Linked DNA regions of Homo sapiens. The protein of the gene in region 1 purifies or fractionates together with the protein of each later gene. This does not show direct contact. Each region holds a gene or a part of one and is shown in the gene's direction. Other genes may lie near its edges.

The links.
Region 2: the proteins of SNX3 (region 1) and AKR1C2 fractionate together in Homo sapiens (co-fractionation; one large-scale study listed by BioGRID). This does not show direct contact.
Region 3: the proteins of SNX3 (region 1) and PITPNA fractionate together in Homo sapiens (co-fractionation; one large-scale study listed by BioGRID). This does not show direct contact.
Region 4: the proteins of SNX3 (region 1) and ANO3 purify together in Homo sapiens (affinity purification with mass spectrometry; one large-scale study listed by BioGRID and IntAct). This does not show direct contact.

What each region holds. Positions count from the first base shown.
Region 1 is NC_000006.12:108,226,541-108,230,040, reverse strand, and holds part of SNX3 (sorting nexin-3), read left to right. Parts: intron 1-3,500. UniProt on the Homo sapiens protein: Phosphoinositide-binding protein required for multivesicular body formation. Specifically binds phosphatidylinositol 3-phosphate (PtdIns(P3)).
Region 2 is NC_000010.11:4,993,858-4,997,357, reverse strand, and holds part of AKR1C2 (aldo-keto reductase family 1 member C2), read left to right. Parts: exon of another isoform or gene 1-118; intron 119-1,211; exon of another isoform or gene 1,212-1,321; intron 1,322-1,492; coding exon 1,493-1,602; intron 1,603-1,690; exon of another isoform or gene 1,691-1,780; intron 1,781-1,873; coding exon 1,874-2,039; intron 2,040-3,500. UniProt on the Homo sapiens protein: Cytosolic aldo-keto reductase that catalyzes the NADH and NADPH-dependent reduction of ketosteroids to hydroxysteroids.
Region 3 is NC_000017.11:1,538,793-1,542,292, reverse strand, and holds part of PITPNA (phosphatidylinositol transfer protein alpha isoform), read left to right. Parts: intron 1-652; coding exon 653-727; intron 728-3,340; coding exon 3,341-3,424; intron 3,425-3,500. UniProt on the Homo sapiens protein: Catalyzes the transfer of phosphatidylinositol (PI) and phosphatidylcholine (PC) between membranes. Shows a preference for PI and PC containing shorter saturated or monosaturated acyl chains at the sn-1 and sn-2 positions.
Region 4 is NC_000011.10:26,594,130-26,597,629, forward strand, and holds part of ANO3 (anoctamin-3), read left to right. Parts: intron 1-2,989; exon of another isoform or gene 2,990-3,045; intron 3,046-3,500. UniProt on the Homo sapiens protein: Has calcium-dependent phospholipid scramblase activity; scrambles phosphatidylcholine and galactosylceramide.

The sequences.
Region 1 (3,500 bases):
AGCAGATAAACCTAGGAATCAACTAGAGCCATCTGTTCTTAATTCTACACCTTAATGCTACATGCAGCTCATCTGTGGCTTCTACTTCTGTAGTAACTTCTCTGTTCTATTTTTTCTGTTCATAGCTATCATTTTTCTATTCAAACATATTTATTAACTCCTGATGCTCACAGGTAGTCACCTTAGCCCCATATTTAGAGTGCAATTTAAACTTTTCAGTTTTATTTCCCATCATTCCCTATGCTTTAGAATATTCAAGAATTATATACTAAATATACACTGTACTTGTTTCTTCTCTGCATTTAGCTCACACTATTTTCACCATTTTCAGCTGTCTTATAGTATGGCTAGCTCTGTGTTAAAAGAGTCCTGGCTGAGGCCATTGCACTCGCGCCATTTTACCCTAGCATGGGCGACAAGAGCGAAACTCTGTCTCAAAAACAAACAAAACGAAAAAGAGTCCTGACTGGCCGTACGCAGTGGCTCACACCTCATATTCCAGCACTTTGGGAGGCTGAGGTGGAAGGATCCCTTGAGCCCAGGAGTTCAAGACCAGCCTGAGCAACTTAGGGAGACCCTGTCTCTAAAGGAAGGAAGGGGAGGGAGGGAGGGGGAGAGGGAGGGGAAGCAGAGAGACTGAGGAAAGGAAAGAAAAGGAGGGGAAAGAATGAATGAATCCGGGCCAAATCAATTGTCAATTCTTCCGTGCTTTTCATATTATACAAATGGTATTATGCTATATAATATACTGTTCTGAAACTTTTTTTTTTTTTTTTTTTTTGAGGTGGAGTCTCGCTCTGTCGCCCAGGCTGGAGTGCAGTGGCATGATCTCACCTCACTGCAACCTCCGCCTCCCGGGTTCAAGCGATTATCCTGCCATAGCCTCCGGAGTAGCAGGAATTACAGGCTCGTGCCACCTCACCCGGCTAATGTTTGTATTTTTAGTAGAGATGGGGTTTCACTGTATTGGCCAGGCTGGTCTTGAACTCCTGACCTCAAGTGATCCACCCGCCTCAGCCTCCCAAAGTGCTGGGATTATAGGCATAAGCCACCGCACCCAGCCTGAAACTTTTTACATGTCATACATTCTAGACAGCTTTTCTGATTAACCTATGGCTGAGTTATATTTTGTAAAAAGCTGTGTAATATAAGCTTGTAATGTAAGATTTATTGTTTCTGGTCTTTTTTGGGGTTTTTTTTTGTGTCTATTACAATGCTAAAATATTTTTGTATGTGTGGAAATATTTGTAGGATTAATTCCCATTGAAATTGTTCATTCAAAAGTTATGTGTATTTAATAGAGTAATGGATAATGTATTCACCAAAATGCCCCCCTTTTTTTTGAGACCGTCTCCCTCTGTCACCCAGGCTGAAATACAGTGAGTGATGTGATCACAGCTCATGCAGCCTCAGCCTCGAAGGCTGAAGCCATCCTGACACCTTATCTTCCCACTACAGGCATGTGCCACCATACCCAGCTAATTTTTTTTTTTTTAAACAGAGTTTCGCTCTTGTTGCCCAGGCTGGAGTGCAGTGGCGCAATCTTGGTTCACTGCAGTCTCCGCTTCCCGGGTTCAAGCAGTTCTGCCTCAGCATCCCGAGTAGCTGGGATTACAGGTACCCGCCACCATGCCTGGCTAATTTTTGTGTTTTTAGTAGAGACAGGGTTTCACCATGTTGTCCAGGCTGGTCGCGAACTCCTGACCTCAGATGATCCACCCGCCTTGGCCTCCCAAAGTGCTGGGATTACAGGCATGAGCCACCACGCCCAGCCTGCCCAGCTAATTTTTTATTTTTTGTAGAGATGGGGGTCTCACCATGTTGCCCAGCCTGGTCTCAAACTCCTGTGATCCTCCCACCTCAGCCTTCCAAAGTACAGGGATTACAGGCTTGAGCCATCATGCCCAGCCAGTTTGTAGTATTTTTAACCATGGAAATTCAACTTTTTATATGCTTATTTTCTAACCTTGATTGGTGTATGTTTCATAAGGGCCAGGTCTGCATCTTATTCATCATTATAAATAATGATTCTCCCTTATCTAGCATGGTGCCCTTTTATAGATGATCAGTAAATAATAGTTTAGTCCTCCTGAAGCTGTAGGTAAAAAACCTCTCCGCCCTTCAATCATTTTATGAAAGTTAAATAAATTGAAAGTGACCAATCACAGGAGTTTCAGCAGTGATAGTTCAGTACCTTAAACAACAACAACAACAAAAAAAAAAAACCCACATTTTGCACTTAGTTATTTTAATCAGTTACATTGAATTACAAATCCTTGTAATGATGAGGAAGACGTTTAACAGGCTAAGTTAACCACTGCATATGTAATGGGCAAGTGATGTTTGAATTTCTTGATGTGACTTTAAACTCTAAAGCAGTCCTCATGCAAAAAGAGAAATCATAACCAGTTAAGAAAACTAAAGGAACTTTCTTAAGCTAATCATGGTCCTCTAAATTTAAGTATATAAACTATCAAACTATTAGCTAATCATAGAAGGGAAAGTACTTTTCCCCCTCACCCCTCCCCTTTCTGTTAGAGTGAATCAGATATAATCATGATTGTGTCAAAAGTTCAAAAGGGAAAATGGAAGGTAAAATGAGCTGAATTGGCACTCTTCTCTCAACATTGTACCTGTAAGCTTGATATGTTGTTTCAGAGATTAACTTTATAGACTTCCGTACCCAGAAGTATGAAAATTCTTAGGGGACTCTTTTCGCAAGCTTGATCTTAACGTATTTGAATAAAGAGAGCAGTTAATCCCCTTTGTAAAGTAATTTGAGAGGAGGGAATTCAGAATGTAAAATCTCACCTGCAGAAAACACTCAACTCTGTAAAGGCCTTTTTATCTTTAAGGCATTTACAAAGACTTAATATTTTAATGCGGAAGGGTGAACTTGGTTAAAAAGCCAATAGGTGAAATTAGAGAGAAATAATCCAGTGCTTTCTTTCTGGGAATTATTCTACTCTCCAGGGGACCTAATTTTATTCCCTGTGGGGAATGAGAATACCCTCTGTACAACAAGCCAGCATCTTTAAATATAAGCTTGACTTTTAGTATAATAAGAGTCTTGTTAGGTGCAATTTTTTCCTTAGTCATTTATACAATGAACAAATGTTGTGGTTACCTGGGAAAGAAAATTCAAGTGCTTTTAAATCTCTTGTGAGATTTGGTTTCATGCTTGAAACCTATACACTGTTATGCCCAATAGCATCTGTTGAAAATTCTGAGCTGTAAGGTATACAACATAGAGAAGTTAATACACTTAGGAAAAAATTGAGACCACTACAAAATGGATTTAAGGGCCTGAATTAAAAGCTTTTCTTGTGCTGAGTGACAGCTACTTACCAGTAGCATTAAGCTTAACAAATAAGTAGAACTTTCTTAGGAGTGAATATTACAAGATGATGTCCCTGTATACACAGTAGGAAGCCAGTCTTTCCTTCAGGTGGCACTTAACTTTTTTCTTCCAATTGTAAAACACTTTTTAGTTCTATGCA
Region 2 (3,500 bases), on another chromosome or scaffold:
ATTTTTCATTGCTTAATCAAAATATCTTTTGTAGCTCTTCTTTTTTTAACCAGAATTCAATTGTTTTTATATTGTTGTATTTGATATCAGTTAACTTGTTTTTCCCAGTTGAAGGTTCCTGTAAATTAAAAGTTAGATGTGAGTATTTTATTACATTGGCTTAAAACTTTGGGGCAAGAAAATGTTTTTATCATGCTGTGTTTTTCAAATTGCACGACACTAGACTGCATACAATCACAGAATGCCCCACTAGTGGTGAAGGTAGTTTTAAAAACTTGGTTAAGCTAACAGTGGTCAGATCTGTTGTTTTTAACTCATGTTTTCTCTTTAACAATTACTAGTAATCTGCTGGGGGATAATTCTCAACAGAAGAAGTCATATTCCCATGACAAATTTTCACATATGATTGAGTATACATCAGTGATTTGAACTTTTTTCTACTGCATTTCTGTTTTCTTCTTTGTTATTTCTTATTTGTTATTTCCTTGGGGTTTTTACATAATCATTTACAATTTTAACCACTTGTTTAACTATTCTTACCTGACATTTAATTAAAAATAATTTCTCACCAAGTAAAAATAATAAACTACTATTCCTCTAAGTGAGAGTAAAGGTAAACTTCTTCCTTCAATTAGCAATGTACTGTGAACGTAATTACTGTAATGACCACCATCAGAGTAGACAAAGATTGTTGTTCTTTTTCTCATTGTCGCACTAATTGCTACAGACTCACGGATTCTTGTGTTATGATTTTTAATTTATTTTACTCATTTTTTAATGCTCACATCTACTCAGCATATATATATATATTATATATATATAATATATATGAAAGAAGAATGTGATCAAAGACTCATGAGGGCAAGTGTAAAAGACAAAAGCACTTGTTTCATAGGGAACCCACTGGTGACATTTGAGATATCAACATACAAATCCATCATACAAAAAGGAAAAGTAATGAAAGACTGTGAAAATTATCAGTATTTATGTGTATATGTATATTTTCTAGTTCATCTATATAGATATATATCATAGATGGCATATATGATATATATATGTCAGATCAATTAGAAAACATACATATATATGTATGCATTTTTGGTATTAATTAGGAAACTAGTTCTTTTGTTTTTCAGACCTGCCCTCATGAGTCTTTGACCAAATTCTTGATTTCTGGCACGATTTGATGCCCAAGGCTCAAAGAATCTTACCTCATCCCAGCTCTGAAATTGGCCGTGTCTCCTTCTAGTGGTCGGAGTTATTGAGAAACCAGGATAGGGTTCATGGAGTTGCTTGTGCTCAGAAATAGCATTTCTATTTTCTTAGGAGAGAGGGGCATAAAATTTATTTTTATGAAAAAGATCATTTTTGACAATAATATTCTCAGTTCAAATTTAATGCTCTACATTATTCAGCTTCTTTTACTTTGGTGATTTTAATATTAATGTAACTTTTGGATTATCTGATGCTTTTCCATCTTGCTCGTCTGCAGGTGGAATGTCATCCTTACTTCAACCAGAGAAAACTGCTGGATTTCTGCAAGTCAAAAGACATTGTTCTGGTTGCCTATAGTGCTCTGGGATCCCATCGAGAAGAACCATGGTAATAAGAGATACAGGAAGTTTACCTAAAACACTGGTTTGATAAAAAAAATTTAATCAGATCATGCTGTTTCCTGGAGTTCACTCACAGCTGACTTGGGGTGAGGGAAGAATTTGCATTTCTGACGAGATCCCAGGTGATGTTGAGGCTGCTGTTCGGGGGCCTCGCTTGAGAAGCTCCGGTGCAGAGTGGACGCCTTAGTCTGTTTAGGGAGCCGCCTAACAAACTATCGCCAGCCTCAGGGCCTCAGCCTTTCTGCCTTTCCTTCCAGGGTGGACCCGAACTCCCCGGTGCTCTTGGAGGACCCAGTCCTTTGTGCCTTGGCAAAAAAGCACAAGCGAACCCCAGCCCTGATTGCCCTGCGCTACCAGCTGCAGCGTGGGGTTGTGGTCCTGGCCAAGAGCTACAATGAGCAGCGCATCAGACAGAACGTGCAGGTGAGGAGCGGGGCTGTGGGCCTCAGGTCTCCTGCACAGTGTCCTTCACACGTGTGCTTCTTGTAAGGCTCTCAGGACAGCCTTGGGCCAGCTCCATTTCCCTGTATTTCCTATGCATGAACTCTTTGTGTACGTCATAAGGGTTTCTTCTACTCTAGCACAGGAGAGGCAACAGAGGTGGAGAGTAATAGGATGGGATCAAAACTACAGATTTGGGTTAGCGTTAAGTCAGTGATATCCATATCCCTCTACTGGGGCCATGTCCTTTTCTTTATTTTTTATAATGAAGCATTGATTAGATGTTCTTTAGTCTCCAACTCATGGCGGATTTTTCTTCTTGTATGTTTATGTAGTATAAATTCCTTATATTTATTCTCTTAGAATTTTATCTTTGCGAAGTGCTTGTTTAACTCTGCCTTTTTTTTTGGCGAGGTGGTTGTGTGTCTTTATTTTTATGTGTAGGAGACCATATTTATACCAATACCTTAGGATATAAGACAAACCCACTTAATATAGAGGCTTAATGCAAAAGCATTTATTGAGCTCAAGGTTCCATGGTTAGAAAATTAGCCTGGGCTCAGCCTAAACTCAGTCCATTCCTTCTGTTCCTGGCTGGGCTCTCATGTGTGTTCAGGGCAGTGAGGCAGCTCTGCTTCAGGATGTCCCTGGGGCATCTGTGTGAGTGCCCCCCTCTCCCATGCAGTTCTTTATCCTCCAGCCATCCAGCCCAGGGTTCACCTCAGCACAGGGCATGACCCCAGCATAGTGAATGGACATGTGCAAAGCCTTTTTAGGTCTAGGCTCAGAGACACCAACCATTGCTTCTGGGAAATTCTATCACCTAATGCAAGTTACAGGACAGGTCAGACTCAAGGGGTGGGGAAACACACACCACCTCTTACTGGAAGGAACTGGAAATTCATATAGCCAAGCAAGTGGACACAGGGACATGTGATTGTTAGAGGGCATGTTCCTAATTAATCTATCATTTATATGATATGTGTGAAATAATATATCAATAGTTATATGTATGAATATGAATATATATAGATATATTATTTCATATATTCTCAAGAATTCATACAAGTCTCTAAAGAATTAACATCCAGAATACATACATATGTGTATGTTTTCTAATTAGTTAGATACATAAAATATACATCACGTATGATATATATTATAAAACCTATGTCATATATATGACATATATCATGTATATGTATATACGTCACTATTTACTAAAACATTAAGTAAAATAAGTGAAGAAATCCATAGGATACTCTGAAATAGTGATACAGAGAACGAGAGAATAAAAAATGACAATAATGAAACAATTGATGAATCTAGGTAATGGCATTCATTAAATTATTTTAAAAATATTTTTGGACATTAGAGAATTCACAAAACAAAAATGAAAAGTTATGAAAGACTGTGGAAATTATCAGTATTTATACATATGTG
Region 3 (3,500 bases), on another chromosome or scaffold:
CCAGAGTGGCTAAATGCATGGATTCTGAAGTCAGACGAAACTGTTTTGAGACCCAACTCTGTCGTGATCTCTGTGACTTTTTTTTTTTTTTCGAAACGGAGTCTTGCTGTTGTTTCCTAGACTGGAGTGCAGTGGTGCAATCTCGGCTCCCTGCAGCTTCTGCCTCCTGGGTTCAGGCGATTCTCCTGCCTCAGCCTCCCGAGTAGCTGGGATTACAGGCACCCGCCACCATGCCTGGATAATTTTTGTATTTTTAGTAGAGACGGGTTTCACCACTGTTGGCCAGACTGGTCTCGATCTTGTGACCTCAAGTGATCCGCCCGCCTCGGCCTCCCAAAGTGCTGAGATGACAGGCGTGAGCCACCATGCCTGGCCCGATCTCTGTGACTTTGGTTAAGTCACCTAACCTCTTTGAACCTCATCTGTAAAATGAGGGTGATTCTACAGAGCTCTCAGGCTGGGGTGAGGATTGAATGGGATAATACATGCCTAGTGTGTCGTGGGCTCCCAGTCAAGTTAACTGTTATTACAAGGCAGAGGCTGGAATCTCCTAGCTGCCCATGATCCAGTAATGCCCATCTCCAGTAATGGGAGATGGTTACTCTCAACTGTGAACCTAGTGACTTTCATGTATTTTTTTTCCTTCTTCCAGAATGAGTACATGAAAGAAGACTTTCTGATTAAAATTGAAACCTGGCACAAACCAGATCTTGGCACGCAGGAGAATGTGAGTAGTAGTTCCCAAAAGCCCCAGGGGTGAGGTCTTGAGTCTCTGCCTTGTAGCCTCTCCAGGGCTACCATGGGGTCCTCTCTGTGGTCCTCTTTTGCCTGGCCGGGAAGGCAGTGGCCTCTGCCTAGACCTATCTTACCAGCATGGGATTGCTATGTCTCTGATTTGCAAAATGTGATCTCCGGAACTTTTTATGGGGCCTTCTCGTACTGCTTGGATTGGTGCAGTTCCTGGTACATGGGAGCTATATCTTTAAAAGACCAAAATTACAGTTTTCTATAGAGCACAATTTGCAGTAACTCCCAAAAAATAAAATACACCTATCCTTTAGCATTTCCATGCCCAAGAATTTAGACAGTTATTTTCACATGTGTGAAATAACATATATACAAGGAGACTCATTGCAGTCTTCTTTGTGTAGCCAAAGATCAAAAACAATGTAAGACCATCCTGGGCAACATAACAAGACTCTGTCTCTACCAAAAATAAAAAAAGAATTAGCTGGGCATGGTGGTATGTGCCTGTGGTCCCAGCCACTCTGGAGGCCGAGGCTGGAGGATCATTTGAGGCTGGGAAGTCAAGGCTGCAGTGAGCTGTGACTGCACCACCACACTCCAGCCTGGGCAACAGAGTGACACCCTGTCTCCAAAAACAAAAAAACAACATAAGAGCCCGTTAGACCGGGTGCGGTGGCTCACGCCTGTAATCCCAGCACTTTGGGAGGCCGAGGCAGGCGGATCACGAGGTCAGGAGATCGAGACCATCCTGGCTAACACGGTGAAACCCTGTCCCTACTAAAAATACAAAACAGCCAGGCTTCATGGCGGGCACCTGTAGTCCCAGCTACTCAGGAGGCTGAGGCAGGAGAATGGCGTGAACCCGGGAGTCGAAGCTTGCAGTGAGCCGAGATCACGCCACTGTACTCCAACTTGGGTGACAGAGCGAGACACTGTCTTAAAAAAAAAAAAAGAGAAAAAAAAGGCCCGTTAGTAGGACAACGTTAAATGCATTGTGGTTCAGCCAAATAGTGACATCCTTGCAGCCATGGAAAAACCAATAGAGAGCAGTCTTCAAGTTGACTGTTCAGTGAAGGATGGAAGTTATGAAACAAGGTGTGTGCATGCCGCCCTTCATATTAAAAGAAAAATCCACGCACATGGATGTTTGTATGTAGGATCTCTTAGAGGTGGCTGTTACTAGACTGGGGACGAGGGACAAGCAAGAAGAGGAGTTACTCTAGTTACTCTATATTGTATCCTTTTGTAATTTTGAATTTGTGTCATAATTTTGTATTATGTGCATGTACAGCCTGATCAAAATAATCAGCATGTTGCTAAACAGACGCCATCTCTAGAAGGGTTTACAGTCTTTACAGCGGGTCAGCATGTTGCTAAACAGACACCATCTCTAGAAGGGTTTACAGTCTGTACAGCCGGGAACACATGGAAATGGTGTGGGCACCGTAAACATCCGGAAGGCGTTTTGACCTGCAGAAGTGACGTTTACCCTCAATAGTCAGAGCATTCGTTCTCAGTCATGTCACTTAAAATCCAGCGGGGGCTGGGCGGGAGGCCAAGGCGGGTGGAACACTTGAAGTCAGTAGTTTGAGATCAGCCTGGCCAACATGGTGAAACCCTGTTTCTACTAAAAATACAAAAATTAGCTGGGCGTGGTAGCCCACGCCTGTAATCCCAGATACTCGGGAAGCTGAGGTAGGATAATCGCTTGAACCCGGGAGGCAGAGTTTGCAGTGAGCCGAGATCGCGCCATTGCACTCCAGCCTGGGCGTCGCAGCAAGACTCCATCTCAGACAAACAGACAATCCAGCTGGGTTCAGTGTTGTGCACCTATAGTCCCAGCTCCTCAGGAGGCTGAGACAGGAGGATCACTCAGGCCCAGCTCCTCAGGAGGCTGAGACAGGAGGATCACTCGGGCCCAGCTCCTCAGGAGGCTGTGACAGGAGGATTGCTCGGGCCCAGCTCCTCAGGAGGCTGAGACGGGAGGATCACTCGGGCCCAGCTCTTCAGGAGGCTGTAACAGGAGGATCACTCAGGCCCAGGCAGGAGACTGAGAGAGGAGGATCACTCAGGCCCAGCTCCTCAGGAGGCTGTGACAGGAGGATCACTAGGGCCCAGCTCCTCAGGAGGCTGTGACAGGAGGATCACTCGGGCCCAGCTCCTCAGGAGGCTGTGACAGGAGGATCACTCGGGCCCAGCTCCTCAGGAGACTGAGACAGGAGGATCACTCGGGCCTAGGCAGGAGGCTGAGACAGTAGGATCCCTCGGTCCCAGGCAGGAGGCTGAGGCAGGAGGATCACTAGGAGCCTGAGGCAGGAGGATCACTCCGGCCCAGGAGTTCATGCTAGAGTGTGCTGTGATCACTCCTGTGGATAGCCATTGCCTGAGAAACACGGTGAGACCCCATCTCTTAAAAAAAAAAATCCATTCTCCCATTTCTTTGGATAATTTTGTATGTAATTGTATAATTACTTATCATTAGGAATCTTACATCTGTGGCTATGGGAATGGCAGTTCCTAGGTGTCCATTCTGGCTAAAGGATATTTTATAACTGACAAAAACTGCATAGTGGTTCCCCACTTGTTCCCACAGGTGCATAAGCTGGAGCCTGAGGCGTGGAAACACGTGGAAGCCGTATATATAGACATTGCAGATCGAAGCCAAGTGCTCAGCAAGGTAGGATCCGTTTAAAGACGTGGGTGGCCTTCGAGACGCAGAAATGACTTCTCAATGCTAAAGAAACCAGGAAACC
Region 4 (3,500 bases), on another chromosome or scaffold:
AGTGGACATCATTGAATAATTCAAAGTCTTCTTCCTAGTTTTCCTTAGTCCTTCTAGCATGCAAGTTAGCAAATGTCTGCGGCACCAATCTCCATCTTCTGATTTTGCGTCCCAATGAGGGTCTACACTGGGAACTGCCTGCTGGCCTGTGGGGAATCATTCTCTTTCCTCTGTTGTCATCCTATCATTGAACTGACTGAGACGCCAGAGATCACCAAACTCTCGGGCTGCAGCTATGGCGGCACTTCTCTCATTTGGAGTTAGTGCCTGATTTAGCAGTAACATTATATCTCTCCATGTCAGATCAAAGGATTGTCCTAACCCTTGTAAAACATCAATATAGCCATCAAGGTTATCTGAGAATTCACCTAGGTCTATTTTAATTTGCTTCAAGTCTGAGAGGGAAAAAGGTACATGCACTCTGACTGGGCCAAATTCTCCTCCTCCCACCACTTGGAGGGGGCGTAATCGGGTAATACTGGCACTCTTGGGTTCATTGTTTACCCCTTTGTCTATCTCTTTTTGGACTGTTTGGGTTGAAGGGGGGTCTTTATTAGTTGGGGAAGGAGCTGGGAGAACACCAGGGCAGGGAGGTAGACTCTGAGGGCTTCCTGTAGGGCATAAATTACACTTTTTACATAATTGAGAGTTTTCTCTTAATGAAAAGAAAGTTTGCACATATGGCACTTCACTCTATTTGCCCTCCTTTCTACAAAGGAGATCTAGCTGTAAGATGATGTTATAATATATACTTCCCTCAGGGGGCCAGGTTTCTCCCCCTTGAAGAGTATATTGTGGCCTGGCGGGACTGCAGAAGAATATAAGTTGTTTCTTTCTTAGCGTATGAGGGTCAAATTGGTCCCAATTCTCCAGAATACATCTTAGGGGCATTTTTGCCTTGGGGGGAATGTTTCCCATCTGAAAAAAGAACATAGGGATGCCAGGATCCCCAGTCATTTTCCAATGAGCTTTAGTCCTAGAGCGTCCTCTATGGTGTTAATGCTTATTCCTTTCCAGGGTGTGTAACCAACCATGGACCTCTGCTTATCGGATTAGTTACACTCACCAGTGTAGCAGTCCTGCACCCTTTTTCCTGCCTTTCTTGACCACAAAGAAAGGGGTCCAGGCTGCTGGATTCTAGTGGTCCTTTACCAGCATGCCCAACATTGCCTTTGGCTCAGGGGTGAGTCCTAGAGCTGGGCTGGATTCCTGAGTACTTCAAACAACCCAGCTGCCCCATCCAGATTCATTCCCATAAACAACAGTTCTTATGCGAATTCGTTTTGGAGAGGGTGTAGGTAAACTTTTGACTCAGTATTGAGATAGAGTTGTTTTTTTTTTTTTTTTTTTTTTTTTTTATTCTGTAAGTACTTTAAGGCTTGGCTGAGTGCAAACAGCTCACACGTTTGAGCAGACCAATTATTAGGCAATTCTCCTAACTCTGCTTCCACAAGAGTCTCCCTATCAATTACTGAATACCCATTGTGGTTTTTTCTCAATCACCCGGGAGGAACCATCTGTCGTCCTGAAGGGAGTTCCTCCTAGGTCTGATCGGACTTTGTATGGTAATTAAGATTGAAATCCCCTGTTAGGAAATCTGCTGGGTTAAGAGAATTTTCAGTGGTTAGTGTTAAATCACCTTTTTCTAACAGAATAGCCGCATACTTTAAGATTTTTGAGTTAGTAAGCTACTTTTTTGCTTTTTTTGATTTAGGATAGCTCTGAACTGGTGAGGTGTGCTCACAATGAGGTTTCCTCTAAAGGTTATTTTTCTACTTTCTTCTGTTAGCAAGACAGTTGCCGCTACCAATTGAATGCATTTGGGCCATTCGCGGGTTACTGAGTTAAGAATTTTTGATAGGAAGGCTATGGGTTGTCAGTGGTCTCAGTGTTTTGGGCTATGCCCTTGTTTACATTGACAACAAGGTAATATTGGAGTGTTATAGGGTCACGGAGAAGACCTTCAATTATCAATTACAGGTTTTAAATTTACCCTGGCTTTTAAAGGAATAGGGCACACTGTTTTTCCTTTACTATTTCTATCTTTCTCTTTCTCTCTTTCTTCTTTGACTTTCTGTCTCTCTCTGTTTGACTCATCTTTTGTCTCTGTTTCTTCCTCTCTCTCTCCCTCTCTGCCTCTCTCTTTCTCCTCTCTGCCTCTGTAGAAGGATTTTGGAAACATAGTGGAAGGACATTCGCTTGTTGCCCCCATTTGCCACTATAGGAATATGTGCCTCCCTTTAATTTACTCAATTCATTTTCAACCTGATCTATTATGTTGTTGTAGACCCAGTTCCAGTTGTTAAAGTACTGGGTTATCAATTCTAAGGCCCTGGCAAGGGTGGTGGGGAACGGGTCCCACATAACTGCCCATGTCGAGAGCTGTATGCCTGAATTGGGAGAGTCACCAGGGCCAAGACTCCCTGGGTTCATTGCCTAGGTGCTTAAGGACACAGCGTAGAGCTTCCTTAGATCCCTTTGGAGATACAACCTGCTCTAATACTTGGGAACGGAAGTGAAAGTCTGAAGCATTAGTACCTAGGAGGCAGGGATCAGAGGAAGTAGATTCAGAGGTAAGGAGAATTTTGGGGCTACACTTTCAAGAAAGTCATGGTTAGGACCCAGGAGATATGGGTCAGAAGGAGAGGTAGGGGCACACACATGGGCAACTGTTGAGTAGAGACTTCTGGCTGTGCAATGATCTCCACCGGCCAATGCCAGGAGTTCAGGACGACAGCTTTCTGCCTCTAGCCGACCCTCGGCTTCCCTAGGAAAATTGTGAAAGCAGAAGCTGGTTCCAGGCAGAACAAAGCTCCCAACACAGAAGGGTTGGGGGTTGTTAGAAAGCTTTTTCCCAGGAAACCTCACACCTGAGTCCAGCAGCCACGCTAATCGTTTTTAACTGGCTGATGGGTGCCCGGTTATTTTCCTCCAATTCTAAGGAAGGATAGGACAGAATAGCAAGTGAAAGTGGTTCAGTATTACTCACCGCTTTGGAGAAGCGCCGTACGGGCCACCAAATGTTACCGGCGGGTCTTTGTTCTTAGAGTTCCCAAGATGGTGGCAGGCCACTCCCAAGATGGGGCGGGCTGCTCCCAAGATGGCAGCAAGCCTTTTGTTCTCTGACCTGGGGTTCTTGGCCTCACGGATTCCAAGGAATGGAACCTTGGGCCATGCGATGAGTGATATAGCTCTATTAGAAGCCATGGGTCACAGAAGGAACCATGGAACCCAGTGACTAGTGTTCAGCTGGATTAGGACGAACCTGGGCACTTAGCCGTGCAGGAACAACGGCAAGCCTCTAGCTGGATCCAGAGCGGCAATGGGCGCCTCGCTGAATCAGGAGCACAGTGGACACCCTGCCGGATCTGGAGGGGTTGAAGTCAGCGGTGGGTCTGTGACAGTGGCAAACAGCAGTGGTGGACAGCAAGCAAAAGCTCAGCTCGAGCCGTAACAAACACGGACCAGAAGAGTGTGCAGTTGCAAGATTTAATAGAGTG